Regions from separate parts of the Homo sapiens genome. Here regions 2, 3 and 4 are each linked to region 1. The links come from fine-mapping of genetic effects on gene expression. A gene starts in region 1. Each other region holds a variant in brackets. All regions are shown on one strand. Distances are from middle to middle. Region 1 holds the start of CACNA1I (calcium voltage-gated channel subunit alpha1 I). Region 2 overlaps CACNA1I (calcium voltage-gated channel subunit alpha1 I). Region 3 overlaps CACNA1I (calcium voltage-gated channel subunit alpha1 I). Region 4 overlaps CACNA1I (calcium voltage-gated channel subunit alpha1 I).

Region 1 (7,656 bases):
GCACAATGTATCCCCTGACATTTCGAATCCAGAGGCCTTGCAGCTGCATCTGCAGCTGACAGCCCATGCCCACGGCCCAGGCCAGGCAGGGAGCGGTGCTGACATATGGGCGAGTGGCCCTTTCCCACCCCACCTTGCAGGCTCCACAAGGGTCCCAGCAGCCTGCTGGCTCTCCAGTGAGTCAGGCGGTGACTCAGGGCCTAGCTCCGGGCTGGAAGAGGAGCTGAGTCAGGGAGCACCAGGCTTCAAAGAGCAGCTGGCTCTGGGCCAGGGCCCCTCAGCACCAGGACATGAGCTCAGGACAGGCTGTCTGGGGGACCCTCCCATGCTGCCCTCCCCTTCCCGGGCCTGGCCATCATGACAGCAGCTCCCACCAGCCTGACTCTGATGCTACGCACCCACCACCCCTTTGGGTTCTCAGTGGGGGAAAGAGTCGCCCTTTGCAGGGTCTAGACATGTGAAAGGTCATTTATGGTAGTCACAATGATTGAAGGACACTACTACTATTGAATATGCAAGACAGACAAGACTACAAAGCACCGTCAACCCCCAAATGCCAATGGTGTCCCATTGAGGAGTACAAGCTTAAGCACTGCCCCAGGCCCCCTCCCACAGAGCACAAGAGGGAGTGAAGTTTCCAGCCAGGAAAGAATCCTAGAGGCTTCAGCCCCTGCCCCACCCACACACGCACCCCATCCCAAGCCCCTAAAGCCCACCCTGAGCTCCCCACGACTGAGTCTCTGCTCCAGGGGACAGCCCTATGGACAGCCACGTCTCCTGGGTCTCTGTTTGTGGAACCCTCCTTGGCCCCTCTCCCACCTGACCCAATTCAGCTATGAACTCTCAGGCCAGCAGCGGCTGCAGCCACCGGGTCCAGAATCCTCCAACTCGTAGGCACACAGCATCACAGCCACCAAGTCTTAGGCTCACACACTCTTTGAAACACAGAATTTTGCAGCCTTTGAATGACAGAAGCTTAGAATTTCAGTGTCGCTGAGCCTTAAATCTTAACTTTGAACCCTTAGACTGTCGCAGAAGTTTTCAGTCTGAGTGTCCCAGAGCTGACACCTTTAAAGTTGCTGTGCTTTTGAGTCGCCACATCTCTGGCCTGAAGAGAGTCCGTATCCCACCAGTTAAGGCCGAGACCTGAACCACCTCTATCCCAGTCCAGCCTCAGCAGCCCTGGCCATGGGGATGCCGGGGGAACCCTCGCTCTGCGCAGCTCCCGGGACTGAAAAGTCCCTCCTGATGGAGGGGGGCTGCTTTCTGCCCCACCCCTTGGACCCAGGGCTCTCTCCAAGACAGACAAGAGGCAGGCCCAGCTCCTCCCGAAACCAGTACTCCTCTCCCTCCTGGGCCAGCCCCACTGTTGTCTCCAACCCCAGGCCACAACCCACATGACCTGAGGATGGAGGTGAGAGGGGTGGTGAAAACCAAGGAGACAGTGGCCCCAAGGACTCTGTTTGCCCAACAGGCCAGAAATATGGAAAACTGGGTGGGTTCCCAGGGGCTGGCTCACTCAGTGGTCAGGCGTCAGGGTGCCTGAGATCAAGGCAGCCCCCATGGCGTGTGTGGCTAACACCCTGGGCTCCCAGGGCTGGAAGGGGTGATTCGTCTGCCGTCTCCTTTTTAGGTGGAGGTGCTGAGGCTCAGAGAGAGGAGACTGCCCAGGGTCACACACATGGCAGACAGGACTTGACCACCCCCATCTAGGGGCCTCTCCGTGACACGTGGGCAGCACCCCAGCCAGCCCAGCCAGAGCCCATCAGAGACGCAGCTGGGTCAGACTCCCAGGCCAAGTCCTCTGAGCCATGCCCCTGCCTCCAGCCCAGAGCAGTATTGCCCATCCAGACCCCCTAAGGTTCAAAGAAGCAAAGTGACTTACTCATGGTCACACAGCACCCAAGTGACAGAGCCAGAATCAACTCTTGTCATCTCACCCAGGAAAGGCCCCTGAGACATTGTGAAATTGTCCCCCTGGTCCTCCTACCAGCCTTTCTCTTCCTAAAGGCCCAAAATTCCTGCGGCCGCCCCCTTCTCAGGCCTGGCACTCCTCTGTTCACATGCCACAAGCCCCTGAGGTTTCCCCAGTGCTTTGTATTAAAACTAGCCACGTAGGCTGGGCACAGTGGCTCACACCTGTAATCCCAGCACTTTGGGAGGCCGAGGCAGGCGGTTCACGAGTCAGGAGTTCGAGACCAGCCTGACCAACATGGTGAAACCCCATCTCTACTAAAAATACAAAAATTAGTAGGGCATGGCGGTGGGTGCCTGTAGTCCCAGCTACTCGGGAGGCTGAGGCAGGAGAATTGCTTGAACCTGGGAGGCGGAGGTTGCAGTGAGCCGAGATCGCGCCACTGCACTCCAGCCTGGGTGACAGAGCGAGACTCCATCTAAAAAAAAAAACTAGCCAAATGGGTGGTCCCTGCTTCCCTCTTCCCCGGGCACTCCCTGGGACAGACACCAGCTCTGCCTCTTTGTCCTCAGTGTCCCAGGGCAGATGTCAGTGAGTGCTGGGTGAACTAATTACCGAGCAGACCCTCTCACCAAGCCTGAGACGCTGTGAGCCGTCCCCCAGAAGGAGCAGGGAGGCTCTTAGCCCCCACCCAGCAAGGAACACCCAGTTCTGCATCCCACTCCAGCAGAGACCCGCTGGTTTCCAAAAGTTAGGGGGATCCAGGGCCCACGATCACCTCAGCCCCCTACAGAAGGGAAGCCTGGCAGTCCTGCAGCCAGTCTCAACATCCCAGCCTGCATCTGGCATCCCTGGATTCCAGGGCAGGACTCAGGCCTGCACCTGACCCACCAGCTCCCCGCACCCTGCCCTGTGTGGCCACAAGCACCAGAACCTCGAGCCACATATGGGCATTTTTTGGTGGGACCCTCAAACCACAAGGCCACCATGGCTTGGGTCCCCAAGCCTCCTCCTCAGTGGTCCCCAGCCCCCACTTCACCCTGCAAGCCAGTGCCACACAGTCCTTCCAGAGCACAGATCTCTCCAGACCCTGCTTCAAATCCTGCCCTTGGAGCACAGTCCCATCCCTCATGCAGCCTCCAAGGCCCTGCAGGGCTCCCGCCACACCTGCAGCCTCACCTCACTCCTCTCTGCCCCTCAGGGCTCCAACACTGCCTGCAACTCCTCCCTTCTCCAGGCTTCGCTCCTGCCATGCCCTCCTCCTGCCTCCCACTACCCTCTCTACCCAACCAACGCTCTTCCTTATTGAGGAGTCAGCTCTGGCATTGCCCATGTACACCCAGCAAACACTGCCAGAGCACCCACGATGTGCCAAGCACTGTGCCAGGTGCTAGGGTCCCCATCCCAGTCATCTGACAGTACCCCAGGGGAGGCAAATGTTAGATTCAGAATTCCACAGTTAGATGTGACAGTTAGATATGAAGCAGAGGAGGAATCCCAGAGGGCTTCCCTGAGGAGGTGATGCTTAAGCTGGGATTTTAAGGATGTAGCAAAGGATTTGGCCAGGTCCAGGGGGAAGGGAAAAGCTTTTCAGACAGGGGGAAGAGCCAGTGAGAGGACCCTGAGGCTCAGAAGAGCACAGGGGGGAAGCCAAGTGGTGGGAAGTGAGGCTGGGTGGAACACACAGGCCCTGATGGGTTGGATTAGGACTTTGCTCTGCACCTCCAGGACCATAGCAAATCATGACAGTCTTAAGCAGGGGGAACATGAGCCCACTGGAGGCAGCAAGTGGAGGCAGGAGGCCTGGGAAGAGGCTGCTCGGAGGCACAGTAAGGAGAATGAGTCCTGCCCTGTGTGTTGGGATCGGCTGCCCCGCTGCCCACGCCCACAGTTCCTGATCACGGCTCCCATCCTCTGTATGGTCACGGCCCATCAGGTGGCTCCAGAGTCTGACTGATCTGCATTCCCAGCCCAGCACAGGTCTGGGGCCCACACTCAAGGACTTTCTGAGCCAGCCAGCCACTGGACTGACCCCACAGCCACCAGCAACTTCCAGAACCTTCACATCAGCAGAACACCAGGTCCTCATCCATTTGAGGTCTCCCCAGACCCACCCTCTGAGCTCGCTCACCACCACCAAGGCCCAGTGGCCTCACCGCAGACCTCAGGTCTCCCAGCCGGAGCAAGGTGTGAGCAGCAGGACTCAATCCAGCCCCCCACCCTTCAGCCCCTGCAGGGCCCCGATCAGCCGAGGCTGCGGAGGATATGGGTTGCACACCATCTTGATGCACCAGTTCCGGGGGCTGGTGGTCTGTCGCAGGCAGAAGAAGGCAATAGGCGCCAGGTCTGGGTGTGGGACATGAGGATCAGCTCCATCCAGAGGCTCCTCCAGGCCTGGCGGGGAGGATGGGGGGCTCCGGGGTCCGGGCTGCTCCGTGGTGACTCCTGGCTCAGCGGCTGGGGCTGCTGCAGATGAGGAGGGCGGGGAGGCGCTCTCAGCCATGTCCACACTGAGCTGGGAGCCCTGGGGAAGACAGAGAGGGTGGCACGTGGTGGGGACAGGCCTGGTACATGCTCCCCAACCTGCCTCTCCACCAATAAGTGGACGGATGCAGCTCTGACAGCCCCACCTGAGCCCCACAGGCCCCTCACCCTCACTCTTGCATGAGGATTACGAAACAGCTGAGGGCCCAGCTGCACCCAACTTGGAATCTGCTTCCAAGCTGGGTGATCATGGGGCAAGTCTGCTCACCCTGGCTGAGCCTCAGTTTTGGCAAACGAAGATAGTGGGGAGAATAAAGCCTTCTTAGAATATAATTGTGATATTAACTCTTTTTTTTTTGTCTATTGGCAATTTTCTGTATTTGAAATCTTTCATTATTTAAGAGAAAAAATGTTTAAGTAATTATAGACAGAAAAGAAAGACGGAAGGGAGGGAGAGAGGGAGAGAGGGAGGGAGGGAGGGAAGAAAGGAAGGAAGGAAGGAAGGAAGGAAGGAAGGAAGGAAGGGATCTTAACTTTTTTACAAGACTAGAGCTATGTATTTATTGCACCATCAAAGGTAAAGAAAACTTGCAAGAAAAAAGAGGTGATTGTAAAGACAGACATTATTGCCAGGACAATGCAGGTTACAAAGGCAATGTTGGGGTGCTGCAGAATCAGAGACTGGGGGAACGCTGGCAAGCCAGGAGGGAATCACAGTTGGCTTCCCTGAGGAAGTAACCCCTGAGCTGAGACCTACAGCTGAGCCCTTGACCCAGGGACCTCCCAGCCACTGCCTTACAAGGCTGAGAACCCAGGAATCTTAGAGTCTAACCTCCTTGCCTTACAGATGAAGAAACCGAGGCCCAGAGAAGGGACAGGACAGACATGTAGCAGAGTAACAGCAGAAATAGAATTCCAGTCAAAGGCCAGGCACGTGACTCACACCTGTAATCCCAGCACTTTGGGAGGCCAAGGTGGGTGGATCACCTGAGGTCAGGAGTTTGAGGCCAACCTGGCCAACATAGTGAGACCTCATCTGTACTAAAAATACAAAAATTAGCTGGGTGTGGTGGCACACGCTGTAATCTCAGCTACTCGGGAAGCTGAGGCATGAGAATCACTTGAACCCGGGAGGTGGAGGTTGCAGTGAGCCAAGATCACACCACTGCATTCCAGCCTGGGCAACAGAGCAAGACTCTGTCACCAAAAAAAAAAAAAAAAAAGAATTCCGGTCAGAGCCCGCTTCCTGGGTCTGTGGCTCAGGCAGCTGCACAGGGCCCCGTGCTCAGAAGGGCCCTGAACTTGCTTTAGAATTCTTCTGTCACCAACATGAAATTCTTAATTGCTTATCAAGAGGTCCCACATTTTCATTTTGTTCTAGGTGATGCAAATCATCTTGCTGGCTCCGACTCCAACTCAAAGCACTTCTACTCCCTGGCCTTGTCTGATGCTCACAACAACCTCAGGAGGACTATTATGCCCATTTGGCAGGTGAAGAAACTGAGGCCAAGAGAACAAAGCGGGTTGTCAAGGCTATGCACCCAGCCAAGTGAAGCACTAGGTGGTGTTGAGAGGCCAGAATCCCAGCACCAGACCCCCAGGCGGGCTTCATGACAACTGATGGTGCCCTCGCTGGCCGAGAGCCTCCGCAACCAGTCAATGGCAAGATGGGACGGACAGCCACTCCCAGGGCCTGCCCCTCACCACCTCACCCCAAAGGGTACTAGTCCCTAAAACTTTGTCCACTGGGGTCCCTGGGATCCTAGAACCCCTACAGGGCCAGTCTGAGCCGTGGGATTGAGAGATGGGGTCCACGTCCCTGGTGCCCACCCAGCTGCTGCTGGGCTGTCGACCAAGCCACCCGGAGCTGATGCATTTGGACATTTCTCTGGCTCCCGGGGGCAACGGGCAGGGGTTGGCACCTCCTGCCACTTCCCCTGGCTGGTCAGGGAGGCGGAGTTTTCTCCTGAGCTCAGGGCTTTGCTCTTGATTCCAGAAAAACAGCCACGGGCCTTACATAAGCTCCCAGGCACCTTGGCCTGCCACGTGTCAACCTCCTGGGCTGAAACGCACCCTCCCTAGGGTGGTTCCAGCTCTGCCCACCACCGTGCCAGCCTCGGAGCCCACCACTCCCTCCCCTGGCCATTTGCTCTGGCCAGATTGGACCTCCTCAGGTCCTAGGCCCTGCTCCCGCTCTTCCCTCTCACTGGGGCACCTTCTCCTTCCGCCCAGGCCCTGTTCTCCCAGGCCCTACTGATTCATTCATTTGCCCAATGAGCACCTACTATGTGTGGGCACTGTGTGGGCTTCGGGCTATGCTGGGGCACGAGCCAGACTCAGCACCAGCCCCCATTCAGCCCACACTTCCGCAGAGGAGAGAGACACACCGATCAATTAATTTCTCTCTTTCTGCTTTTCCACAACTCTTATCACCATCAAACACGGTGCATAATTTATGTCTTTATATCTCCATGATTTGGTGTCTGTCTCCCCAGCCTAAGAGAAGCCTGTAAGGGAGGTGTATCCCCTCACTGCTGTATCCCCAGCACCTGGAATGGTGCCTGGAGCATACTAGGTGCTCAATCGATATTTGTTGACTCAGTGAATAAAAAGTGCTGGGAAGTAAATAAACAAGGGGAAAGGTGGGAGTGGAGACAATCATCTTGCCCTCTCTAAAGGAAGAGATGTTTAAGTGAAAACCAAGACGCGGGAGGCCGCAGCCCTGACTGATCTGCTGGAAGAGCACAGGAGGAAGAGCACGTGCGAAGGCCAGGAGAATGGGGCCCGCTCGGTGCATTTAAGGAACACAAGCGAGGCCGAGCCTCGGGCAGGGAGGCGGATGAAACCAAAGAGTTCAGCAGGGCCCTGGGGGAGAACACAGAGGAGCGTGGGTTTTATCCCAAGTTCAGTAGAAGCCACAGGTGGGTTTTAGGCAGGGGAGTGGTGTGCTCTGGTCTGTTTCTAAGCCATCTCTCCAGGGGCTGAAGGGAGAGTGGATGAAGGGGAAGGGGTGGAGCAGGAAGGGCTGGGAGGAGCTGGGCTGGCCTGCCCTTGGCTGCTGGTGAAGACAGGGAGAAGGCGGTGGATTGAGATTTATTCTCGAGGTAAAGCACCTGGTCTCGCAGCAACTGCAGTGGCCCACCTGCAACCCTCGCCCCAGCATTACCGAAGTCCTTCCTGAAACCACACAGGTGGAAAGAGCTCCCCCGGCCTCCGGGACTGCACAAAACTACCCACTTCCTGCCTCTGGGCTACGT
Region 2 (7,656 bases), 110 kb before region 1:
ATGTACCCAAGACGGCTGGACAGTCTGAATGTCCTGGCTGGGGTTCCTATGCCATACCATCTTACCATTTAAGGAAAACGTAAATAAATGGTTGGCTAAAGGGAATGAGATTGCATTCCACCGGAATGGCTCTCGGGTCAGCCCTGTGCCCTGAATTCTGGTTTGGGAAGTCTGGGATCTTGGCACCTCAGCCACCCTGGCCAGCTGAGAGCCCATCAGCTCTCAGGAGGGTGCCCAGGAAAGTCACCCCACCCCTGGCTCCTGGGAGGCGTCCCTGAAGGGTACTTGGGGTGGGCTCAGAGTCTTGGGCATCCCTCTTCTGCTGGGCTCCTCATCTCTCTGCCTCCCTCCACAGCCAGTGATGCGAAACCAGGTTCCTGCCACCCTCCATGAGGACCACAACAAAGATGAGCCCATGATGGCAGGCCAGCTTAGTCCCCTGGCCCTGTGCCCAGAGCCCAGCCACAGGCCCAAAGCATAAACAGAACACTGCAGGTAGGGCTGAAGGATAAGTATCAGGAATTCACAAAACGGCTATTGAAGACACCAGGCTTTCCTATGTTTAACATCCCCGTGTATATGAAGATCTGTGGGCTACACACCTCTCAAATTCAGCTCTAGAAAAACACCACAATAATCTGGCAGCTTTCCTTCTGCTTGATGAGAGCCGTGTGTACCCACCTCTTTCCCTTTTCACCATGGCTCCTAGGAAGCTCAGCATGAAGCTTCCTTTAGATGCTTAGGTTTTTGTTATAATTACCTCATCTTTTTGTACTATTTGGCTCTTGATCTTTTATCATTGTTATATCAGGCCTGAGAGTCTATCTCTCATTGTCAGATATCCATCTGGTTCTTTCTGGACTAAATATAATAATCTGGGTAAAAATACTAAGGAAAAAACTCAGCCATCTCCCTCTGAAGCAGATGCCCAAGATGAGGGCTGTGGGGAGCTGGCAGGGCTCCCACCCCTCACCTTGACTGCTGTCATGTTTCAGCCAGGACCGGACAGGGTTGAATGGGATCTCCTCCATCTCACACAGGAAGTTCTCTGGATCCGGCGAGACGGCCGTAGAGGACAAGGGGAAGAAGCATTCGCCCAGGTCTCCCACACGCATGGGCTCAGGTGGGTCCAGCTCACCCTGCAAGGAAAGGGAGGTAGGATGGGGCAGGACTGGGAAGGGGGACAGCTCATGAAGGGTACCTCATGACCTGCTCCACGGCCCCTTGCTTAACTAGGCTACCCTCATGTCTAGTCTGACCTTCCTCTCACCTCCTCTACCTGACCATCTTCCAAAATCCCGTGAAAGGAATCCACCTCCGAATGCCCACTGGATGCCCCAGGCAGTTAGTGACTTCCCCTGGTACAGACCCTGGCCCAGCGAAGAAGCCAGGTCAAGGCTGGCGAAGGCATCAGAAGACAGGCTGAGTGGCCACACGAGTGTCCCATGAGCATGACCTTGGGTGGGTCCCTTCCCTTTGCTGAGCCTGTTTCTGCATCCAAGGAGAGTAACGCCTACCTTCCTAGGCATTCCCTGGCCCCCACATTCCTCAGCCCTGCAGCCCAGAGTGACCCCTTCCCAGAAGAGCCGCCTTAATGCCCCCTCCAAGGCAGATGAACTCGTGCCACCCCGACCTCCAATGACTTGCTGAGTCTGGCACAAAAGACTGCACCCTGCCCAAGTCCAGCTGAGTCCCAGAAACTGTGCATCCTGATATCCTTTGTAGGAGAGCAGTGTAGGGGTGCGGGGAGCTGCAGCAACTGTTACCAATCAGGGAGGGGACCAAAATGACATGGAAGGGACAGGAGGAACTGGCCCCACAGCCTACTCTGAGCTGATGGAGGGCCAGCCTAGGGGGCAGAGGTACCAAGCCCAGGGTATCCCCCAGCTGTCCCTTACACCCCCCACCCCCAGCAGGGCAGGACCACCTTGACCTTGAGATCAGGAGCCCAGGTCTTGAGATCTCACCCCCTAAGACTGCAGGATCAGCAAGAGCCCCCTCCTGGCCTGCAGGCCTCCTCAGACTGACCCCCTGGGGTGGCTTCCTGCTCTGTCATTCCTGGCTGTGTGATGTGAGCATCGCCCCACTTCTTGGAACCATTTCCTCACATGTGAAGTGGGAACAAATCATCCCTGCTGCACAGAGCCGTGCGGCAGACAAACAGGTGGCACGGGCAGAGCGCCTGCACATAGTAGGTGCTTGTGCCTGACGCGACCGCCCCCGCACATAGCAGGTGCTTGTGCCTGACATGACTCCCCCGTTCGCTTCAGCCTCACAGCCCCGCCGGCCAGGGATGACCCCCCGTGGAATGGACCAGAAAATACTCAAAGCAACAAGAAGCAGCCAGTACTGCTGGGTGCCGGGTTGGAGTGCTGGCTGGGCTTGTGGCTGTGTGACCTCAGGCAAATCACTCCACCTCTCTGAGCCCTACTGCCCTCATCTGTCCAACAGGAGATGAAGGCCTAGCACAGTGGGTGCCGTTTACATGGTAGACTGGAAAGACAGGGGGGTCCTGCCTGGGTGGGCAGGGGCCAGGTTTCAAGGACAGACCCGCCTGCTCAGGAGTCCCCAGGGGAGCTGACCTTGCTGTCTTTGCGGCCAGGTGGGCAGGCTGTGGGGTCCTCGAGACTCAGGTCGTCACCCAGCAGGATGGACGAGGACCTGTCTGAGTTCAGGGAGAAGGCCTCCGTCTCAGCCAGCTGCACCTGCAGGAAGAGGGGGTGGCCTCGGGTCACCCAGGTTTGGGATGGGCAGACCTGGGTCCTGGGGCGTGCAGCCACAGGCCTGAGGCTCTGAAGAGAGGCCGAGCAGTGGTCAGAAAGGTCCAGACACCTGCTGGACACGGATGATGTGTCCATCCTGTGCAGGGGCCCAGCCTGGGTGACATGCGATGGTGACACAGTGGCCACCTCCAGTGGAAGCCAGCTCTGAGTGGCCCATCTTGCTACCTGGACCTGAGGGCAGGTGAGTTGCCGTGGGCTGTGAACTCCACAGCTGTCTGCTTGCCCCCAGACCAAGTGCCCGTCAAGACTGGGCTGGACTTGACTCATCTATGGCCCCATGTGGATGACCTGCACAGCGTGTCACAGGCAGGGGACACTGCGGGGCCCAGAGACACCGGAGAATCTGCAGCCACCACAGGGCAGGGATGTGGGGCAGCCCAGTCCTCCAGCTCCTGCTGATGGTTCCTGGGGACCTGCCCTGCAGCCACCTGAGGCTGGGGCCACTCTGGGGGCTGGAACACCCCAGGGAGAGCTCAGGGGCCCACACTGCTGGGGAGAGGGGAGGGGGCTAACTGCGCCTGCTCTGGAGGCAGGCCCATGGGAACCCCTGAGCTGGGTGGGCCTAAGCCCTGAGGTGGAGGCCAGGACAGGGCACCTGGAGGAGGTTGAGTGCCAGGATGATGCCTTGGGGGAAGAGCGGGCAGATGACCCCTCATGTCACAGAAAGGGCAAGCTGTCCTGCAAGTGACACACAGGCTCCCTGCCTGGCACCTGCAGCACACAAGGTGGGGCAGCTGCCCTACCCAAGCACCTACTGTGTGCGGCATGGTGCTGGGGTCGGCAGCTGTGGCCACCACACCACAGGCCCACACCTGGCCCTGACTCAGGGAGCCAATCTGCCCCAGCCATGGAAGCTACGTGTGCCCACGTTGACCCAGCCTGGTCTCTACAGCCCAGAGCCAGGCTCTGCCCTCGGACAGGCCCCCCACCAGGTTTCGTGCTGCCCCTGCCACAAGGGGCCAGGCCTCCCGGGCTGCCATTACCTCTTGCTTGTCGTGGTGACACTTCTTGCAGCCGGCAGGCGAGGAGTAGTGGTGGAAGATGGAGCCCGACAGGTTGTCGATGATGGTCAGCTCCCCCTCCAAGGAGTCCTTGATGATTAAAGAGACGCTGTCCAGCCACAGGTTCTCCTAGGCGGACGGGGACGGGGTGGGGACAGGCGGGATTATCAGCCGGGTCCCGGGGCTGTGGGGTGGGCAGGACACAGCTGCCCTCCCGGTTGGTTCTCTGCGCCCATGGCCTGGGACCGACCCCCTCATCACAGGGTCACCCCTTCTATGGAGCTGAGCAGGGTGGGGCCCAGAAAGACAGAGGTCTCTGTGCAAGGCCTCCCTGGCCCTGCTGCCCATCTGGCCCTGCGGTGCCCCCCCTCTGGCGACCCTC[A/G]CACCTCTCCAGCCCCTGCCCACCTGGGCAGGCGAGTAGCAGCGCCGGCACAAGCCGCCCTCGGTGTCGCCCCCGCCGCCCGCCCCTCCCGGCCCTCGGCCAGGGGCGCCCGGGGAGCCGGTAGGCAGCCTCGGGCCAGGGCCCAGGCCATGGGCCATCTCCAGCTCGAGCTCGGCATCCATCTCGGCGTCCTCCTGCGCCTCCTTGTTGCTGTCGTCCAGGTGCTTCATGAGCACAGCCACCACCACGTTGATGAGCACGAACTGCGCGGTGAGCACGAAGCTCACGAAGTACAGCGGCGACACAAACTGCAGGCTGCTCAGGCAGCTGCGCTCGTCGTGGGTGCAGTCCCGCAGCGTGTCCTGCGTGGCAGGGAGGGCGGTGAGGATGAGGACGGAGACATCCCAGAGGCTGCTGGAGGCAGAGGCCAGCCCAGGGCCACGCTCGGAGGCAGCAAGACCGAGATTCAACCCCCGAGATGGCCCCGGGCTGCCCTGCCCCACTCTGCCTTGTTGCGGCATCTGCCTGCCTCAGCTTCAGCTAAGTCCCCGCATGGACAGACGGATGGCCCAGCGCCCTCTCCTCCTCTCTTGCTCCTGCCCATGTCACCCTCCCCACAGCTGGCCTGCTTCCCCGGGACAGTCAGGCCTGAGAAGGGGCATCTGGGGCTTCCTTCAGGGGCCCCTGGGGAGTAGGGTGCATTCGTGACCAGGGCCTCCCTGTCCTTCCTTTCTGGTTTTTCAGCTCAACCCCCAACCACAAAGCCCAAGAAGACTCCATCACCTTCCCGCCCTGGGCTGAGGAGATTGGCCGCCTCTCCCAGCACCCTGGCTTCCTGCCCCCTTGCTGGGGGCACTGGGGGCTCTGCAGGGTGGGGGTGGGAGGCAGAACAGGCCTACCTCTGCCCTCTCCACCCTAGGGCCCCGGAACCGAGGCCTTACCCCTGTCCTCTGGGAGCCCCTCCCTGCCCTTCCCAGCCCAGCCCGGGTTGCAGCCCAGGCCAGGGAGCCTCTGCCGGGTGACCTGGTCAGCGTGGAAATCACTAGGGGGCCTGGCCCTGGCCTTCAGGCCTGCCTGGGCCCCAGGTCCCCTCCGGAACTGGGTGGAGTTGTCTACCCTAGAATCTGAGCCCTGATCCCAGGCAACACTGGGGGATGAGGCAGTGTAGACAGGGGGCCTGTTCTGGCTCAGCTCTCCCCACTGTGCTGGTCCTGGGCAGGCCCCTCCACTCCTCCGTGCCCTGCATGCCCCTCCCATGTGTGGTGGGGCCCTGGGTGGGCAGAGCCCTGAGCAGCAGGACCAGCATCCTCACTGTCCCAGCACCTGGCTGATTTCTCCACCCCAGCCCGCCCAGGAGTACCTTCATGATCCCGTTCCAGTTGTCACCCGTGGAGACCTGGAAGAGTGTGAGGAAGGCCATGCCGAAGTTCTCGAAGGTGGCATGCCGGCTCATGCCCTCGCACGGGTTCTCGTCGTTGCAGACTGGAAGCGGGGAGGAGGTCAGCCCTGCCCGATGGCGGAGTGCCTGCGGGGCTCACCCTGACCTGGTGCCTCCCGCCTCGCCTCAGAACCCTCATCACACCCTAGGAGGGGCCTGCAGACTGTGCCCAGCCCACAGATAAACTGAGGCTCGGGGAGATGGCACATGAGCTGGGGCTCAGGTTTGGGTGAGTCTGGCTCTGCTCCCCGCCGAAGAATGGGTTTCTGAGAAAGAGGGTGAAATGGGGTGAGGGCCAGCCCCTCGGGGAACCCTGCTTTCTGGAGCCATCCCGGTGCAGGGCGGAGCTCAGCGAGCGCTCTGTTGCTCTTTCCCCTGCCCTGGCCTCTCCACTTGCTGGGGTGGCGCTGGCTCAGGACAGGCACCAACACCGGGGTAGGGAGGGCAGTTTTCCTGGGAGACCAGACAGCTGAGGGCCCTGCTGTAGGCATCTCCCCAATACAAAGACCCTGATGTGACGGGCTCAGGGGTCTCAGGCCTCCCCCGCCCCCCCAGTTCCTCCTGCAGCCCTGCTGCACCCCCACCACGGGCCTGCTCTGGGAGTCACTCACCCAGCTTCCCAAAGAGCTCCACCCCGAGAGCAGCATAGATGAAGAAGAGCAGCATGAAGAGGAGGCCCAGGTTGCCCACCTGCGGGAGGACAGGTGAGGCCGGGTGGGGCTGGGGAGCGGGTGGGGGCGCACCAGGCCTGGGAAGGGTGGAGGCTGGGGCAGTGGGGTTGGGCAGCCTGTGGGTCAGAGCAGCTGTAACATTCCCCCAGGCTGTGTGTCCACGTCTGCCACCCCTACAGGACCTGGAGGGCAGGCTGGGTCCAGCACAGGGCTCAGAATAACAAGAAAACACTTGTGCCACCTTTACCACAAGCTGTCCCATTTCCAGCACTTAAGGTTCATGAGCTCACTTCCTCCTCACAATAATCCACGAACTATCTTTTATCCCCATTCTTCAGAAGAAGAAGGAGACAGACTGAGAGGTGACATCACTTGTCCAGAGTCGCACAGCTAGTAACTGGTAGGACAAGGGTCCAAACCCAGCAGGCTGGCCCCAGGGTCCATGCACACAATCTATGCTACACGCCTTGAGTGGCTACCAAGGTTGAATGGATGGATGAACGAAGGGAAGGGAGAAGGCAGGAGGTCTCAGCTCTAACACTAGCTCCTCTACGAAACCACCGAAATGCACTTATCCCTGTCACTGTCATCTGCTGGTCTGGGAAATCTTCAAGAGCAGGAACACAGCTGCATGAGGTCAGATTTGCCTCCTTGGGCCAGCATGAGGCCTGGCCATAGAGAGGAGGGAAGGCAGGAATCACGCAGGCCCGTGGGCCCCAGAAGCCTCTGCAAACCCAGCCACCCCCATCCCACAGCTCCTGTGGGAGAAAGCGTCCCAGATTCCAAACCTAGTTCAAATCTATCCATGCATTGGAGACCACCTTTAACTCATGCTATGGATAAGATAAGGCTAAAACACATTCTTGCCCTAGAAATGAAATATCTCTTAGAACCCTCAGAAGGCCTTAGAACCCTCAGAAAACGTTCACGTTAACTGCTGAAAAGTAAACCCCATTAATCACCACTCCTCGAGTTTCTCCGCTCCACTCCAGAGCAGGGTTTCCTGGCCAGCCGTTCTACACTGCTAGTGTCTGACTAATTAAATGATGTTCCCTTCATTAATAAAACAAGCACTTACTGAGCACCCGTGAGGCCAACTGTAAGGCCCTGACCGCTGAGAAGGATCTGGCGTGGTCGCGGCTCTAGGAATTCAGCTTTGTGCCCTGCACAGGCCGGCGGGGGCAGCATCTCTTAACCAGGATTGCCGTCAGCTTTTCTATCTGTCCCCTCCCTGCTGTCAGCATCTCAGAGCCGGCAGGGTTGCAGCAGCCTCCTCACCAGCTTCCCTGCCTCCAGCCTCTCCCTCCAATCCATTCTCCTCCCAGCCAGCAGAGCCACCTTCTCAAAGGCAGCTCGGCTGCAGCCTTCCTTGTCTAGAACC
Region 3 (7,656 bases), 120 kb before region 1:
CCCGCATACATTAGGTATCTGTCCTAATGCTCTCCCTCCCCTTGGACCCCACCCCCTTGACAGGCCCCAGTATGTGATGTCCCACTCCCTGTGTCCATGTGTTCTCACTGCTCAACTCCCACTTATGAGTGAGAACATGCAGTGTTTGGTTTTCTGTTCCTGTGTTTGTTTGCTGAGAATGATGGTTTCCAGCTTCATCCATGTCCCTGCAAAGGACATGAACTTATTCTTTTTTATGGCTTCATCCACGTCCCTGCAAAGGACATGAACTTATTCTTTTATATGGCTTCATAGTATTCCATGGTGTATATGTGCCACATTTTCTTTATCCAGTCTATCACTGATGGGCATTTGGGTTGGTTCCAAGTCTTTGCTATTGTAAATAGTGCTGCAGTAAACATATAAGTGCACGTGTCTTTACAGTAGAATGATTTATAATCCTCTGGGTATATACCCAGTAATGGGATTGCTGGGTCAAATGGTATTTCTGGTTCTAGATCCTTGAGGCATCGCCACACTGGATTCCACAATGGTTGAACTAATTTGTACTCCCACCATCAGTGTAAAAGTGTTCCTATTTCTCCACAGCCTCACCAGCATCTGTTGTTTCCTGACTTTTTAATGATCGCCATTCTGACTGGCATGAGATGGTATCTCATTGTGGTTTTGATTTGCATTTCTTTAATGACCACTGATGATGAGGTTTTTTTCATAAGTTTTCTTTTGAGAAGTGTCTAGGAACATTCCTAATGCCACTGAACTCTACACTTAATAAGAATTAAAATGGTAAATTTTACGTCATTTGTGTATACTTCACCACAGTTTCTTAAAAGGCTAATTTTTTTCAGGGAGGAGCTGAGAGTCAGAGGGTGGGAACAGCCTGGAGTGACAGGGAAGTTTCTCGAGACAGTGACGCCTAAGTGGGGGCTTGAAGGGTGAAGAGCCCAGCAGAGGTGGGAGAAGGGCAGAGCAGGGCAGGTCAGCATGGCTGGTCCATGAAGCCACGCTGGGCAGTGGGTGAGGACTGGAACGCCCAGAGCCCTGCAGGCATCGGGCAGGTCCCGGGAGCCATGGAACCACTGAACTGAGCTGCAGAGGTGGGGTCAGCTGGTGTTTCTCCTTCACCAGGCTCCCAGTGAGAAGGGATTGAAGGGGCAAAGTGGGCGGGCAACCCAAAAGCAGCATCCCAGGAGGACAGGGCAGGGGTGCCAGGCAGGCCATCGGGCAGGGGTGCCGGGCAGGCGATCAGGCAGGGCACGGCCCCTCATGGCCCAGGGAAGTCACCCCCCACTCTCTGACAGGCTTGCCAACTTCACAAAGAAGAATAAGGACAGTCAGTTAAATCTGAATTTCAGATAAGCAACAAATAACTTTTTAGTGTGACTATGTCCCAAATACCGCATGGGACCTGTTCACACTGTAAACGTGTTCCTGGCGTGTTCAATGTTCTCATGTAGCCAGGTGCCCTGGGTCTCATCTGGACGCTGCCCTCTGAGACTCCTGCCTCTCATCTGGAAAGCCGGTGGTCACTGCCTCAGCAAGGCTCTCCCCTCTGGTTCTTCAGGAATCCCCAGCCAGTCCTCCCGGACCACCCAGCCAGGAAGACCCCCACCCCCAGCCCCGGTCACGGTCACTCCACCGGCTCTGCTGCCTTCTTGGCACTTGCAGGCTCTGAAACGGCCCAGCTGTGTGCCTGTCTGTCTGGAATCTTTCTCCCACTCTGAGGTGCGGGCTCCGTGAGCACAGGGACCCATCACCACTGTGTCCCCAGCACCTAGCAGAGGCTGGGCGCGCGTGGGTGTGCAGCCATGATTTACTGAAGATGACACAGATGCCTCCCTGGAGGGGCAGCCTGAGGGGAACAGGAAGATGAGGGTGAGTGGGGCGGGGCCCCGTGCAACTGCTGTTTCTGCCCCACCATTCCCCTCCTGCTGATGACCGGCCCCCTCTCCTCTGAGGCTCAGGCTGGCCTCTGCCCAGGGGACGAAACGCCCCTAGCTCTGTGCAGATGTGGGCCGGCAGATCCGCACCAGCCCGGCCTGGCCCTACCCCCACCCCTCCCGACAGGACCAGCCTCCTCCTCCACAGATTCCCACGGCAGCCTGTTACCATGGTGACAGCAATCGGAGGTCACTGCGCTAGAAACCGGAGGATGCCTCCCTCCTGGAGCACAACAAGAGTCAGAATCTAATTTTCATTATAGCCATAATAGTGGTTTTGCATAATCTTACATATATTAATACCTAACATGCCTGTGTTTATTTGGTTAAAATTCATGAATTCGGGTCTAAATAAAAAGTGCTGATGGCTGAAGTTTTTCATTCTCTTAAAATGTTCTTGTGTTATTTTTTTTTTTTAAAGCCAGTCTCTCTCCTTGGCAGCAACTTGCTTTTAATCCCATTATTAACGGGGAAGAGAGAGGATGACAAATCAGGGTTCTCCTCCCCAGGGGCCGAGCCTCTGGCTGTGGAGGTGGCATGCAGGTGCCCGTCACCCCTAGCCTCTGCCTCGCTGTGTGGCCCAGACCACACCCTGCTGCCATTCCAGGCCTGTTTCCTCAAGTGGAAAAATAAGATAAGGTGTTAGTTGGTCTTTGAAATCCCTTCTGCTTCCAAAACACAGCCACGGAGCTGACATTTGCTGAATCTCAACCTGCACCAGGCTCCGGGTGGGAGGAGTAAACACAGTCCCTGTCCTTGGGTCAGCGCAATCTGATGGGGACTTACTCAAGAAACAGTGCAGGCTGGGCATGGTGGTTCATGCCTGTAATCCCAGCACCCGAGGCGGGTGGATCACCTGAGGTCAAGAGTTCGAGACCAGCTGGCCAATGTGGCAAAACCCTGTCTCTACTAAAAATACAAAACTTAGCCAGGCATGATAGCAGGCGCCTGTAATCCCAGCTACTCAGGAGGCTGAAGCGGGAGAATCGCTTGATCCTTGCAGTGAGCTGAGATCTTGCCACTGCACTCGAGCCTGGGCAACAGAGCGAGACTCCGTCTCAAAAAAAAAAAAAAGAAAGAAAAAGAAATAGACAGTGCCAAACGGTGAACAGATTATTCTTCCCACGTGACCCTCTCGCCCGGGTCCAGCAACTCAGCCACAGCAGCAGAGTATGGGAACCAGGCCTGCCTCCTCCCCAGCTCCACAGGCCCCCAGCCACCCAGCGGCCATGAGAGCACCCTGCCATGAGCATTGTTCTAGGTCCCCGACGCCCCAGGCCCCATGCCTGAAAATGGGGGAGGAGACACTGCCACCCCTCCCTTGAGAGAAGCCTCAGCTTGACACCCACCCCGCTGGGGAAAGAACAGCAGAGACACACGGAGAAATTCTTAAATAGGCTTCTGGGCTTTTATTCAAAACAACACTGGTGGTGGCTGCCGCTTGGTTTCTCTACACCCGGGCCATGGGCCAGCAGGTACCAGCGCCATCAGCAACTAGGAGGGAAGTTCATTCACACCATAGAAACTGTACAGCGACTGAGAGTGCTAGAGTCACGGCGGCGGCCCAGGCCGAGGGCTTTCTGGAGGAGGTGGCCTCTGCCTCCTCAGTAGGCTGCAGCTTGGCCCAGGCTCTGCCAGGAACACTGATTATTGCACAAAGACAAAAAAGAGTATGTGTATCTGGGCTAAAGAGCAGCTTCTAAGACCCCAAGCCCTTACACAACGCAGCAAACGGGGCTGGGGTTGGCCCTGGAAGCGGAAGGCTCTGAGCTGAGGATTTGGGGGAAGACAGCAGACGGGCTTTACACACTTTGTCCTCCTTTAAGGGGCTGCCTGGTGCCGGAGAAGGTAGAGCAGGGGAGAGGAAGAGGATTTGGCCAGACTGGGCCGTCTCTGCACAGATGCCAAGGTGCCTGCCCACCACCGCTCTACGGAGCCCAGCAGACAGCTCAGG[G/A]ACCTGGGTCCCCACTTTCCCCACAGCCAGGCCCATGTGGGTTAGGGCAAGTTTGTGCTTTTGTGATAGACACAAGCCTGAGGCCATGGCCCCAGACCACAGGGTTGGGGAGGAAGGAAGGGCCCTTTGCCCAACCCTCACCCATGTTGACTTGTCCTGGCCAGTGGATCACAGCTTCCCTGGTTCTCATCTCTGTCACCCACAGGAACAAGGTCAAGTGCCTGGGATCGGCAGGTGGGGCCTCCAGGAGCCTGGGACGGGCCAGGCCATCTCCCAGTGCTCCCTGCAAGGAGCTTCTCTGCCTCTGAGCTCAGCTCTTCCACCTTCTCCACACTCCCTGCTCTGTGGACCCTGGAGCCTTCGCTCATGCCCATCCCTTTGCCTAGAACACCTGCCTCGAGGTGTCTGCTTGCAGAGTCACACGGTTCAGGGTAAGGGGAGGTTTCACGTCAGACCTGCCTAGGACGTGTTCCCTGCTCAGCTGCTCTGAACCCATGTGACAACAGGAAAGGCTGCTCAGTGGAGTCGCAAGATGACCTGAGGCTGCTTGACTGGTGTCTGATCCTGTTAACTTGAAGCCCAACCTTCCACATGGTATTCCCAGGCCACACAGCCCCTCTTCTGGGCTCCAATACACGTGTCCCTCCAGCAACACGCGGACTTGCAAAAAGTCAAGTCTGTCTGCTTCCCTCCAACTGCGAGAGCTCAGGGTCAGCCAGGAGCAGTCAAGCCTGCCCAGCTCCACTTCTTCCCCAGACAAGGTACCTCGTTCCACATAAAACCACCTCTGTGGAAAGGGAGGCAGGGCTGAGGCTCTCTGGAGCGGGCAGTGTTGGGCTTGGACCGAGCCATCCCCACAGGTCTACCTGCCCCCAGGGAGGACTGGGCAGTTCCTTCCGCCACAGGCACCTTGCTCAGCATCACAGCTCTAGGGTGTGGAGTAGGGCCCTCCACACCACCCCAGCTTCTTTGCTGCCAGGGCCCTGAAGCATCCTGGGCTGGCTGCTTCCCCTCTCCAGGGCTCAGTTTCCCGGGTGGGCTTGACAACCCCTCCCGGCCCCCTCTCCCTCAGCCCAAAAGGGAAGGGCGCACCCCACACCCTCACCAGCCCGGCCACAAGCTGAGTTCTTCCAAGTCAGAGTTTGGGAACAAGAACAAGGCCCCCCCTTGGCAGGCCCCCCTGAAGCCCTCGGAGGGGGTCTTAGCAAAGGCAAGGTTATTGCTGAAGTACAGCATCTGCAAACTCGTGGCCCCTGCAGCCTCTCCAGATCACTGCCACCAACATGCTCCCAACCTCCTTCTTCAAACTGACTTCATGAAAGTCACTCCCTTTTTAAAAAGTAGCCTTGACCTAAGCAAAATGTCTGTGAAATCACGGGTTCAATGCATTTTTTTCCCAATAAATAGTGAAATAAATGCGTAACTCTTCAAATCAAACACCCAAGTCTAGAACCCGTTTGGGAAGCACTGCTATAGTGAAAGCTGAGCTGCAGTTAGGGGCAGCGGGGAGGAGAGACAGGGGCTGGCAGGTGGGGTGGGAAGATGTGGCCTCCAGGTGACGCGAAAGGCTGGGCATGGGGATGCGGCTGGACCCAGGGCCCAGGCAGGTGCCCCCACCCCTGCCTAGAATTCGGTCAGAGCTGCTTTGCCTTGAACCTACTGGGGCGGGGGCATAGTTGCTCAGGACGGGGACAGCACAGTGTCCAGGAACAGCCACAGCTCAGCGCCCATATGGGGGATAAAAGGCATTAGTGGCTGAACAACTAACTACCTGAGCCCAGGGGCACCTGCAGGGCAGCTGGAGCCAGCCGAGACCAGGCGGGTACCCTAGCCCCTCCAAGCAAGCCACTGCCGGCTCAGTCTCCCGCACCCTTCCTCTGCAGGCTGCCTCCACTCCTGCTCCACCCACCCCCGCCCTCCTGGGGGTGGAACCCACCCCCTCAGAAGTGCTCAGGAGCTGGGGACCTCACCTGGGGCCAGAGCCCCAGCTCAGCCTTGGAGCTGCTCTCCATCCCCTACCCCAGGCCTAAGGAAACACAGCTACTCACCCCTGATTTTTCTAAAGAGAGACATCTAACCGGTGGACTAAGGGGATGTGTGTGCTCTGGGGTGTCTACGAAAGACTTCACAATAACGAGACAGTCAGGATGACAGGACAGACACCCCGACACGTGGGAGCCACGTGGGATCTTAGCAGCGTTTCTTCTTTAAAGGAAAAAAAACACACACACACCCTGAATTGCACCTCTTCTCCAGGGCCTGGTGCCCTCAGAGGCCTGAGGGTCCTCTCCAAGCTACTCTTAACCAGGGAGGAGACATCAAAAAACACAGCTGGGACGCCCCCGCAGGACATGTGCCCTGGGGTGGGTCTGGCCAGAATCCCAGAGCATCAGACAAAAGCCCCGTCCAGGCCCTGGCCCACCTCCCACCTTTAGCACTTTCTGGAAGTCATAAGCTCTCAGTAAAAAAAATAAATATATATATATATGTCTGTCTATGTGTGTGTGTATACACATATATATATATATATATATATATATGCATATATATATATATATGTATGTATATGCACTGGAAGGGCCACCATGGGCCACGCAGGCCTGGCTAACCCAGACTCCGCTCAGCCCGGCTGTCGGGCGCCTGTGCCCTGCGGGCCCTGCGCGATCCCAGGTGTGGACGAAGTATTGCTGTCTGCTCCTGGCTCCTGAGGTAAAGAAGGTGAGACGGGGCGGGCGGTGGGCGGCCGGGGGCCCCTGCGACCCTCATCTCTTCCTCTTGCTGGCGGCGTCTCCCGGCTCCAGCTCTCCGGGGAGCGGTTGCGGCGGGGGCGCCAAGGGGCCCAGGCCCATGGGCAGCGGTGCCCGGCCGGGGGGGTCCTTGCTGCGGTCCGCGGCCCACGAGGGGCTCCGGGCCAGGCCGTGGGCCAGGGCGGCGGCGTGGGGGCGGCCGGGGGCGGCCAGGCTGCTGGTGCTGCTGAACTTCCTGGCGGGCGTGAGGCCGGGGGCTGGCGGCGGGGGCGGCGGGCAGAAGAGGGAGGTGAGCGAGAGGCTGCTGAGGGTCTCCGAGTGCTCGCTGCCCGCGCCCCCGCCGCCCGCGCCACCGCGGCCCTCCTCGTCCGAGGGGTCCATGGAGTCGTGGTGGGTGCAGCCCGGGCTGGTGGAGCCCCCGCTGCTGTGGCTGCGCTGATGCGCCCGCAGCCCCCGCAGGCTGAAGAGGCCCCGGCCGCGCAGGCTCAGGCGGCGGCGAGCGGCGGGGGACAGGCCGGCCCGGGGTCCTGGAGCAGGCGCGGGCGGCCCCAGGGCACGCCGGGGGCTGTCGCTCAGGGTCAGGCTGTCCTCGAGCGTGGTCTGCAGGCTGCCCGCGGAGCTGCTGGGGCTGGCGTCCAGCGACGTGTCGCTCCCGGTGGCCTGGGGGGAGGTGGGAGCCGTGGAGGCCGCCTGTGTCGGCCCCCACCCCAGCAACCTGGACGCCGCCCTCCCCCGCACAGCAGGCAGCAGGCAGACCCCATCCAAGGAGCTCCCTTCGGAGCAGGGCTTCTCCCCTCCGCACGTCCAGCTTAGGCGGCGTCACCGCAGGGCCTTCACCTGCCCCGAGAGGTCCCCCGAGAGGAGCTAGCATCCGCCTCAAACCCAGGTCAGACCCGGCCCTGCCCGTCACAGAAGGCTCCAGGCTCACTCCAAGGGGAAGCCCTGGGCCCACCGCCCTCCCCCAGGGCACGTGGCACCCCCACCGCACCCCCCATGGTCTGACGCGGCCCCAGCC
Region 4 (7,656 bases), 88 kb before region 1:
GGCCTAGACTAGAGGAGAGCCCAGGAGAGCCTGGCCACCAACATCCGTCTTGCCTAAAGTCCTCGCCTAGCCCCAGAGGGAACCCTGATCCCCAGGGATCTTGGAAGCCAAGGCTGAGACTCTTCCCTGACCTCCTCCAGCCAATCCCACTCCCCAAATCCATCTTCACCCAGCAGCCCTCAGGAGGCTGCACTCTCCCCTGGAGACCCCCACCTCTGGGCCGGGAGGGTCCGCTGTGGTCTGGGAGAGCGCCACCAATGGCCTTGCCTGGCTTGGCAGAGATCCGTCCCTCCCACGTTACCCCTACTCTAACCCTCACCCCAGGCCTGGCCCTGCCCACCTGTTCTCGGGAGAGAAGAGGTAGACAGACCAGTCTTCGCGGACCTCGCACCAGTCGGGCTTATAGACGTCGATCATCTTGCGGACGCGGAAGCACAGGGTCTAGCAAGAGGAGGACGGAGCGCCGGGGGTCAGCGATGCGCAGGGTTGCCGGTCTCCGCCCATGCGGCCATCGCGCCAACTGGGGTCGCAGGGTCACCTCCGAACTCTCTGCCCCCCGGGGGCAGCCAGGGAGGGCTTCTCTCCCAGGAGCCGGCCCAGCTCAGGTGTGGGCAGTTCTGGCCCCACCCCTCCTGCCTCACACCTGAAGCCCTAGCCGCTCCGGCCACGCCCCGGCCACGCCCCCCGTGGGCCCGCCCGCTCGGGCCCCGCCTCCTGGGGCCGCACCCACTTCTGTCCTATCCCACCGCACCAGGTCCCCTTCGGCCCCGCCCCCACTCACGTAGTCGATTTCCTCCTCATCCTCCCCGCGATCCCCGCGGTCGCCCATCTTGGTGAAGACGTCTTTGGCGATGCTGGGCATCCTGCCATTGCAGTCCTCATGCCCGGGGGCCGGGCCTGCCGCCCTCCAGGCGGCCCGGGGGTGGGCGCCCACCGCGGGCACCAGCTCGGCCAGGTCCACCGAGTCCCTGTTGTCGAGGGACAGCGTCCGGCGGTGGTGGCGGTGGCGGTGCGCCAGATGGGGCCCGTGATGAATGTGGTGGGCGTGTGGGGTGTGCAGGGGTGCGGCCCGCGGCGGCCCCTCGTCCGCGGCAACCTCGCAGACCCGGGCGCCGCCGCCGCGCTCCGCAGAGAGCAGGGACTCATGCTCCGCCGACGGCGGCTTGTGCTTGAGGCTGTTCCAGCTGGAGCGACGGCTGGCCCAGGCCGCGCTGCGGCCCCATGGCCCGTAGTAGGAGCTCCGGGAGCTGGACTGGAAGGAGTTCCCGTTCGGGTCAGCGCCCCACAGGCACACCCACGGCTGGGGCACCAGGTGCCCAAAGGCAGCCTGCACCCCCGCTGTGGCTCTAAGACCACCCACCTGGCCAGCGGGTGATGGAATGGGCTTGACCCTAGAGCTCCTCTCCCTGTCCCACCTCACTCCATCCACATCCACAGGGACATGGGGGCACATCCACCCGGAGGTTACATCCCCTCCTGCCACCTCACTTCCCTTGAGGAAGGTACAGCAAGTTAGGGCCATCTTCCCATTTTGCAGGTAAGGAAACTGAGGCTCAGAGAAGGGCAGTAATTTGCTCCTGGTCACACAGCTTGGAAGTGGCAGAAGGTGGATTCAAGCTGCAGTCTGCCTGACTCCAAAGCCCAGCTCTTTTTACCCTACACATTGTTGCTGAGATGAAAATCCAATTCTCTGCACCAGACCCCACTGGCACTAGGCCTTCATTCGTTCCTTATTGCCAGGTCCCACTCTGGCACTGGGCACCCAGGAATGCAACAGACATGGCCCCTGCCTGACTTTGGCTGGGCACCAGAGTCTGAGGCTAGACTGGCAGGTACCTCTCTTCAGGGCCCCTCCACACACACCCCAGCAGGAAGCGCCCGTCCAGAGCTCCCCACAAGGACTCACCAGGGAGCGCTGGTCATAGCTCATCCTCCCTAGAGACATGACACTGCTCTTTCGGGAGCCCAGGGCCACCAGCATGGGGTCCGGCTGCAGTGAGAGTCGGGGGGCAGGTCCCGCAGCCCCAGCAGGACCTAGGTGCCCACCCAGTGGGAGACTGGGGTCCAGGTGCCCATTGGGGGTCATGGGGATTGGGCAGAGCTTGGGATCTGGAGGAGTGAGATGGAGACAGAGGGAGGGACAGATGGCAGACAGGACAGAACAACAGCAAGGGAGCCACGAGACAGACAAACAAGGAAGGAGCAGAAATGGAGAGCTTTTCTAAGGAGGCTTCCTCTACCAGGAAGTCTTCCTGGTTGCACCCCATCACAGTGCCTCCCCTTCGCCCCACCTGCAGGGCTCTTAGCTTTATTTAGGTATGTGTGGACCCCTTGCCTTCTGTGCTCAGAACCAGCCTGACACCTCACTCCCATGCCCACTATGGGAAACAAGGCAGGGACTGTCCGCCCCAGTTACCGAGAAAGACACTGGGCTAGGGTTGGAGGATGCTTGTTCCAAGATGCCCAGTAGTGCCAGGCAGGACCAGAACCTACACCTTGACCTAAGGCCCCAAGGCTCTAACCAAGGGGCCCTGGTATGTGGAGGGATGTGGTGGGCTGCGGCTACCCCTGTGCCTAGAATCCCAGGGGTCCATGGATGTCACTGACCTCTTTTTGAGATTTCACATTTTTTCCAATTATGAACGTAAACAACAAACCATAGATAAGTAGCAGTCCCTGAGCCTGGGCTTGAGGTGGAGTCAGACGCTGTACCCTCTGCCCACCTGGATCTGTGGAGAAGGCTCTGGGCTCTCTAGGTGACAAGCGAGGGCCTGTTTACCTCCGCTGCTGTCCAGGCCTTCCTGGAGCTTATCAAACTCTTCTATGTTGGATGAGCTCTGGTCCTCGTCCGAGTAGGAGCGATTGGCGTCACCCTGGGAGAGCATCCGTCACGTTAGAATGCAGGTCAGTCCAGCTCCTCCCTTCCCAGCTCCCTCTAGAATTTTTCTATGGGTGTTTCCACCGCCATTTTGCAAATGGGAAAACTGAGGTTTGGAAAAGGGAAATGAGATGCTAACAAGAACCTAGGTCACAACCCTACATCTGCCTGACTGCAAGTATCCCCAGAGCCTCAGAGAACGGAGGGAGCAGGGCCCAGAGTCCCTAATCTTGGGGGATTTCGAATCTCAGAGATGGAGAAGCCTAGTCCTACATCCCTGGGGGGGAGCAGGGATGGCAGACGCAGTCTCCATTTGCATGCTTCCTATGATGAAGAGCTCACCACCTCATCAGCAACCCCCTCCTTTAGGGATAGGTTGCCTGCTAGAAGTTTGAATTGCAGCCCTCCCCCATCCAGGCCACCTCTCCCTCGCCCAGTCTTTCGCAGACCCTGTGGGGGTGCTTCCTCTGCCAAGACCACAGTCACCTCCGCCTGGAAGCCCTCCACCAGGATGGCCACCAGCAGGTTGAAGAGCACATAGTTGCCGAAGGTCATGAGGGCGACAAAGTAGAGGGAGGCCCAGGGAGAAGTGGAGGCCATGCCATTGTAGAGAACGACGTTCCAGTCCTCCTGGGTGAGGATCTGTTGGGGAGACACAGTTAGCCCTGGGGTACCCCTAGTCCAGGGCTAGGCTCTACAAGGAGGCATGGGAGTTGTCAGCCCCGCCCCTCCCAGGCCTACTGTCCCATCGCTTCCCCAGCAAACATGAACACGCAGCGGCCACTCACCTGGAACACAGTGACGATGGCCCACAGCAGGGAGTCGAAGTTCTTCCTGTCGGGCACCGTGTCTCCAGTGTCCGTGCGGAGGCTGAACTTGCAGCCAAAAATATGCATCCCAAGGATGCTGGGGAAAGGATGGAAGAGGCTCATCGGACTCACATGCACCAAACTGCCTACTCACCTTGTTTCATTCTCAGTCAACTCAGTAAAATGCAGGGCAGGGGGAGGCGGGGCAGCGTTGGTCCCATTTTACAGAGATGAACACTGAGGCTTAGGGGTTCATGCTTGCTGAAAGCCACAGGGGACTGAGGAACAGTGTCAGGCTTCACACCCAGGTCCAGGTGGCTTTGTCCAGAGAAGCACAGTGGACCACATCCCCCAGGCTCCCGCCCACAGCCCCAGCAGGTGCTGAGGTATGGCCCCCAGCAGGGCAGGCTCACCTGAAGATGAAGATGAAGAGCATGAGCAGCATGCAGAAGGTGGCCACGTTGTCCATGGTCTTCATGAGCACCACGAGCTGGCGCCGCAGGGCAGGCATGAAGCGCACCAGTTTCAGCACGCGCAGCAGCCGGAAGGTCCGCAGCACCGACAGCCCACCGTCCGCCTGCCCCACAATCTCCCAGATGCTGCGGTCCCGCAGGGCAGGCCCAGGGTACAGGTAGGAGGCAGCAGTAGGAGGCCAGGGGGAGAGGAAGACAGAGGGAG[A/G]AGGGAAAACAGAGAGACAGAGCTTCCATTCATCCATCCATCTGACAAATATGTTGGATGCTGCTCCACGCCACAAGCTAATCAGGGGCTCTTCACTTGGAGTCCATGGACCACCACCACCCCCACAAGAAGTCTCTGGCTAGAATCCGGAGGTCCATGGATATCACTGTCCTCTTTTTGAGATTTAACGTGTCTTTTGGTTATGAATGTAAACAGGAAGCCACAGAGAATTAGCAGTACCTATGGCTTTGTGGCAATCAAAGTAACTGGTGTCTTCACGTCACGTGACAGCCGATGCAGTTGTTTCCCAATATGATTTATGCCCATCCCTTCCTCGGAATGATAGCAGTCACAGACGCGCTGCTAGATCATGCTGTTTAACTTGACAGAAATATGTTGCTAAATCACAAATGTTTGACTATTTCGATAATTGTTTCAGTGCAACGGGTTTCCACAGCCATCTTATGTCCTTTATATGCTGGCTGGGGTCTTTGCAGTAAATGTCCCCCCGAGGCACTCTGCTGCCGGGTGGGTTGGGGGAGGGGTACCTGATGATGACAATGATGCTGTCGAAGATGTTGTAGGGGTTACGCAGGTAGTCGAAGAGCCCAAATGCAGCCAGCTTCAGGATCATCTCCAGGGCAAACATGCTGGTGAAGACCACATTGCAGATCTCCAGGATGTTGGTCAGCTCCTCCGGCTGTGGGGCATTGGGGTGGGGAATGGAGACCCGGTCAGGCCAGAGGGCAGCTGTGGATCCCCTCTGGACACCCACCCTGGCTGTGTGACCCTGGCAGGTCGGTGTCCTCACCATACCTCCGTCTCCCCACTGCCCCATGCACAAGGCCCCGAGGGCCCCTCTCAACTCTGCTACCTTGGGGTCGTGAGAGGTCTGCTGAGATGGTGAGGGTTGGGGGACCCCACAGCGCTGACCTTCCACAAATTTGGAAATGAGGCTTGTAGCACACTACCAGGGAAGTGTTCTGATACGCATTTTACGGATGAGGAAAAAGAGGCTTGGAGGCCAGCCTGAGGTCACACGGCTAAGATGCAGAGCAAGACAGGAAAGCAGGACAGGCGTCGCTAGACGTCACTAACCCATTTAGTGAGCACTTACCACGTGCCGGGAACCGTTCTATGCATTTTACAGCCATCACTTCACTTAGCCCCTCACAAGAACCCGTCTGCAGACAGGCAAGGACACGGGTTCACAGGACGCCAGTCCCTTGCCTGAGGCCACAGAGCTAACAAGTGGTGTGGCCAGGATTTGAACCCAGGCAGCCTGGCTCCAAGACTCCTGCCCTTAACCCCCGCCCATGCAGAACTTTTCTCTCCCCTTCCCAGCAATGGCCGTCTCAGGACCAAGGGTGGCTGGGGACATCGTGCCCCATGAAAGGACGGTGGACACAATGTACCTGCTGCATGCCAGGCACAGTCCTGCACACAGAGCACCCGTGGTGGCTCTTAGCACTCCCAGCAGCTCTCGGAGGAGGACATTCAGACCCAGGGAGGTTAGAGGACCTGCCCAAAGCCACTAGTTGGTCAGAGGGAGACTAGCTCCCTCCCCCAACAGCTGTGGAGCCTCCCTCTGCTCCCAGAGCTGTTTACCCCTGGTTTTTAACTGATATCCTGCAAATGGCATTGTTCAAAGAACCCCAGTGTTCAAAGCAGGCCACACTAGAGGCCACGACTGGGGGCAGTGGGGGAAGTTGGAGGGGTCCGGGTTTGGTTTGGACATTAAGTGGCTGTGTGGTCCTGGGAAAGTTGCTTCCCCCCTCCTCTGGAGTTTAGTTTCCTTATCCATAAAACCACGGGGTCGAGTGAGGAACCAATTCATCCAAGCCTCTCCTCTAAGGCTCCTACGAGGCCCAGCCCCTTCTCTCCCTGCCACGGCTCCCCTGGGACTGATGAAGTGTCTGGTGTGTGCTCACTGTGGTGCCAGGTCATCCCTGCCTGAATCACAGAGAAAGGAAGCACTGTCGTTGAGACCTGATTTGACGCCCAACACAAGTTAGCCTCTCCGTTTTACAGATGAGGAGACTGAGGCTAGGGAAACTGGGAGGGGGAATGACTTGTTCAGAGCCACCTAGCAAGGATGTGGCAGGGCAAAGGCAGGGCACTGAACCAAGCTGGACTCCAAACTGCTCTCCCGTTACACCACATGGGGACTGCAGCCAAATTCATTCATTCATTCATTCATTCATTCATTCCTGCATGGCTACCACAAATTTGAATGACATGATGTGCTGGGCTCGAGCTACCAGGGTGGGCAGTGGTGAGGGAGTCAGGGCACCGTCCCTGCCTTTGAGAAGCTCGTGCTCTGGGGCCAAAGCCCAGTAAACCAAGTTAACAAACCAAGCCAGTGTGTGCTGACGCCAGGAAAGTGGGGGGTGGCTAGGGGAGCGGTGCTAGTGGGGTCAGGAGGCAGCGACATCTCAGCAGAGACCTAAAAGCTAAGAGAGAGCTGGCGCCAGGGAGCAGAGAAGGGTGTGCAGGTGGAGGACCCAGCTGGCTGGGAGGTGGGAGAGCAGAGGACCGAGAGCAGGAGCCCCTCCATCAGCAACGGGGAGCCGCAAGGACCTGACTCCGACTCCATGTGGGTTAAAAGGAGGATGGAAAAAAAAAATAACAACCCAAGCGCCAGCTTCCAGCCTGATGCCTGGGAAAGCTAATAAAACTGCCAGCTCCTCTCAAGCCCAGATGAAAGGAGAAGGCCCATTTCCATCTGTAATTACATCTGACTCAAGAAGTCGTCCCAAAAGAGGAGTAGGACCCTGAGAGGGACCCTCGGTGGGGAGGACTGAGCCAGGGTCCAGATGCTGCTCAGAGCCAGCAATTTGCCAGCCCAGTAAGCGATGTCCGCGGAGATGAAAGCTGTAGGCGCTGACACTCCGTGATGATGATCAGCTGGCTCCAGCCGCGCGCGCCACGCACACACTCCTACCAGGGATGCAGGGAGCCACTGCCATCCAAAAGGTCACCCCGCGCCTCCTCCTCCCTCACAACAGATGTTCCTCCATTCAGCACACCTGTTAATCTTTTTCTAATGGACCATCCATCACTCATGAAAGCATTTCTCCGGGACAGAGACACACAGACGAATATAGACACAGCAAGTGGGAGCCCAAGGAGGAGGGGACATGGAGAGGGAGGGGCGGAGATGGGCAGAGACAGACAGACAGACAGATAGAGACAAGGGAGTGAGGGGCAAAGGTGGGGCATGGAGAGATGGAGACATGGAGACAGGAAAGCAGGGACACGGATGTGAAGAAGGACCAGGACAACGAAGCA

What was found.
Region 2: its variant is fine-mapped to the expression of CACNA1I in whole blood (TOPMed, PIP above 0.99).
Region 3: its variant is fine-mapped to the expression of CACNA1I in whole blood (INTERVAL, PIP above 0.99).
Region 4: its variant is fine-mapped to the expression of CACNA1I in whole blood (TOPMed, PIP above 0.99). The same link has a PIP of 0.9 or more in blood mononuclear cells.

What each region holds. Positions count from the first base shown.
Region 1 is chr22:39,567,515-39,575,170 of GRCh38, reverse strand. It overlaps CACNA1I (calcium voltage-gated channel subunit alpha1 I), which reads right to left and starts at 4,418. Exons shown (of 37, transcript NM_021096.4): 1 at 4,183-4,418. The coding sequence starts at 4,418. RefSeq lists an enhancer at 1-399.
Region 2 is chr22:39,675,979-39,683,634 of GRCh38, reverse strand. CACNA1I (calcium voltage-gated channel subunit alpha1 I) reads right to left here. Exons shown (of 37, transcript NM_021096.4): 30 at 6,216-6,294; 31 at 5,527-5,648; 32 at 4,190-4,528; 33 at 3,767-3,913; 34 at 2,583-2,705; 35 at 974-1,139. Among named protein-coding and RNA genes, the nearest start is that of CACNA1I, 110 kb to the right of the region's middle. The variant A/G (reference allele first, on the strand shown) is at 4,167.
Region 3 is chr22:39,685,406-39,693,061 of GRCh38, reverse strand. It overlaps CACNA1I (calcium voltage-gated channel subunit alpha1 I), which reads right to left. Exons shown (of 37, transcript NM_021096.4): 37 at 3,327-7,301. The coding sequence ends at 6,657. Among named protein-coding and RNA genes, the nearest start is that of CACNA1I, 120 kb to the right of the region's middle. The variant G/A (reference allele first, on the strand shown) is at 3,895.
Region 4 is chr22:39,655,561-39,663,216 of GRCh38, reverse strand. It overlaps CACNA1I (calcium voltage-gated channel subunit alpha1 I), which reads right to left. Exons shown (of 37, transcript NM_021096.4): 11 at 4,914-5,065; 12 at 4,101-4,286; 13 at 3,667-3,784; 14 at 3,365-3,520; 15 at 2,780-2,873; 16 at 1,907-2,109; 17 at 782-1,252; 18 at 341-441. Among named protein-coding and RNA genes, the nearest start is that of CACNA1I, 89 kb to the right of the region's middle. RefSeq lists a silencer at 640-759 and an enhancer at 6,826-7,327. The variant A/G (reference allele first, on the strand shown) is at 4,366.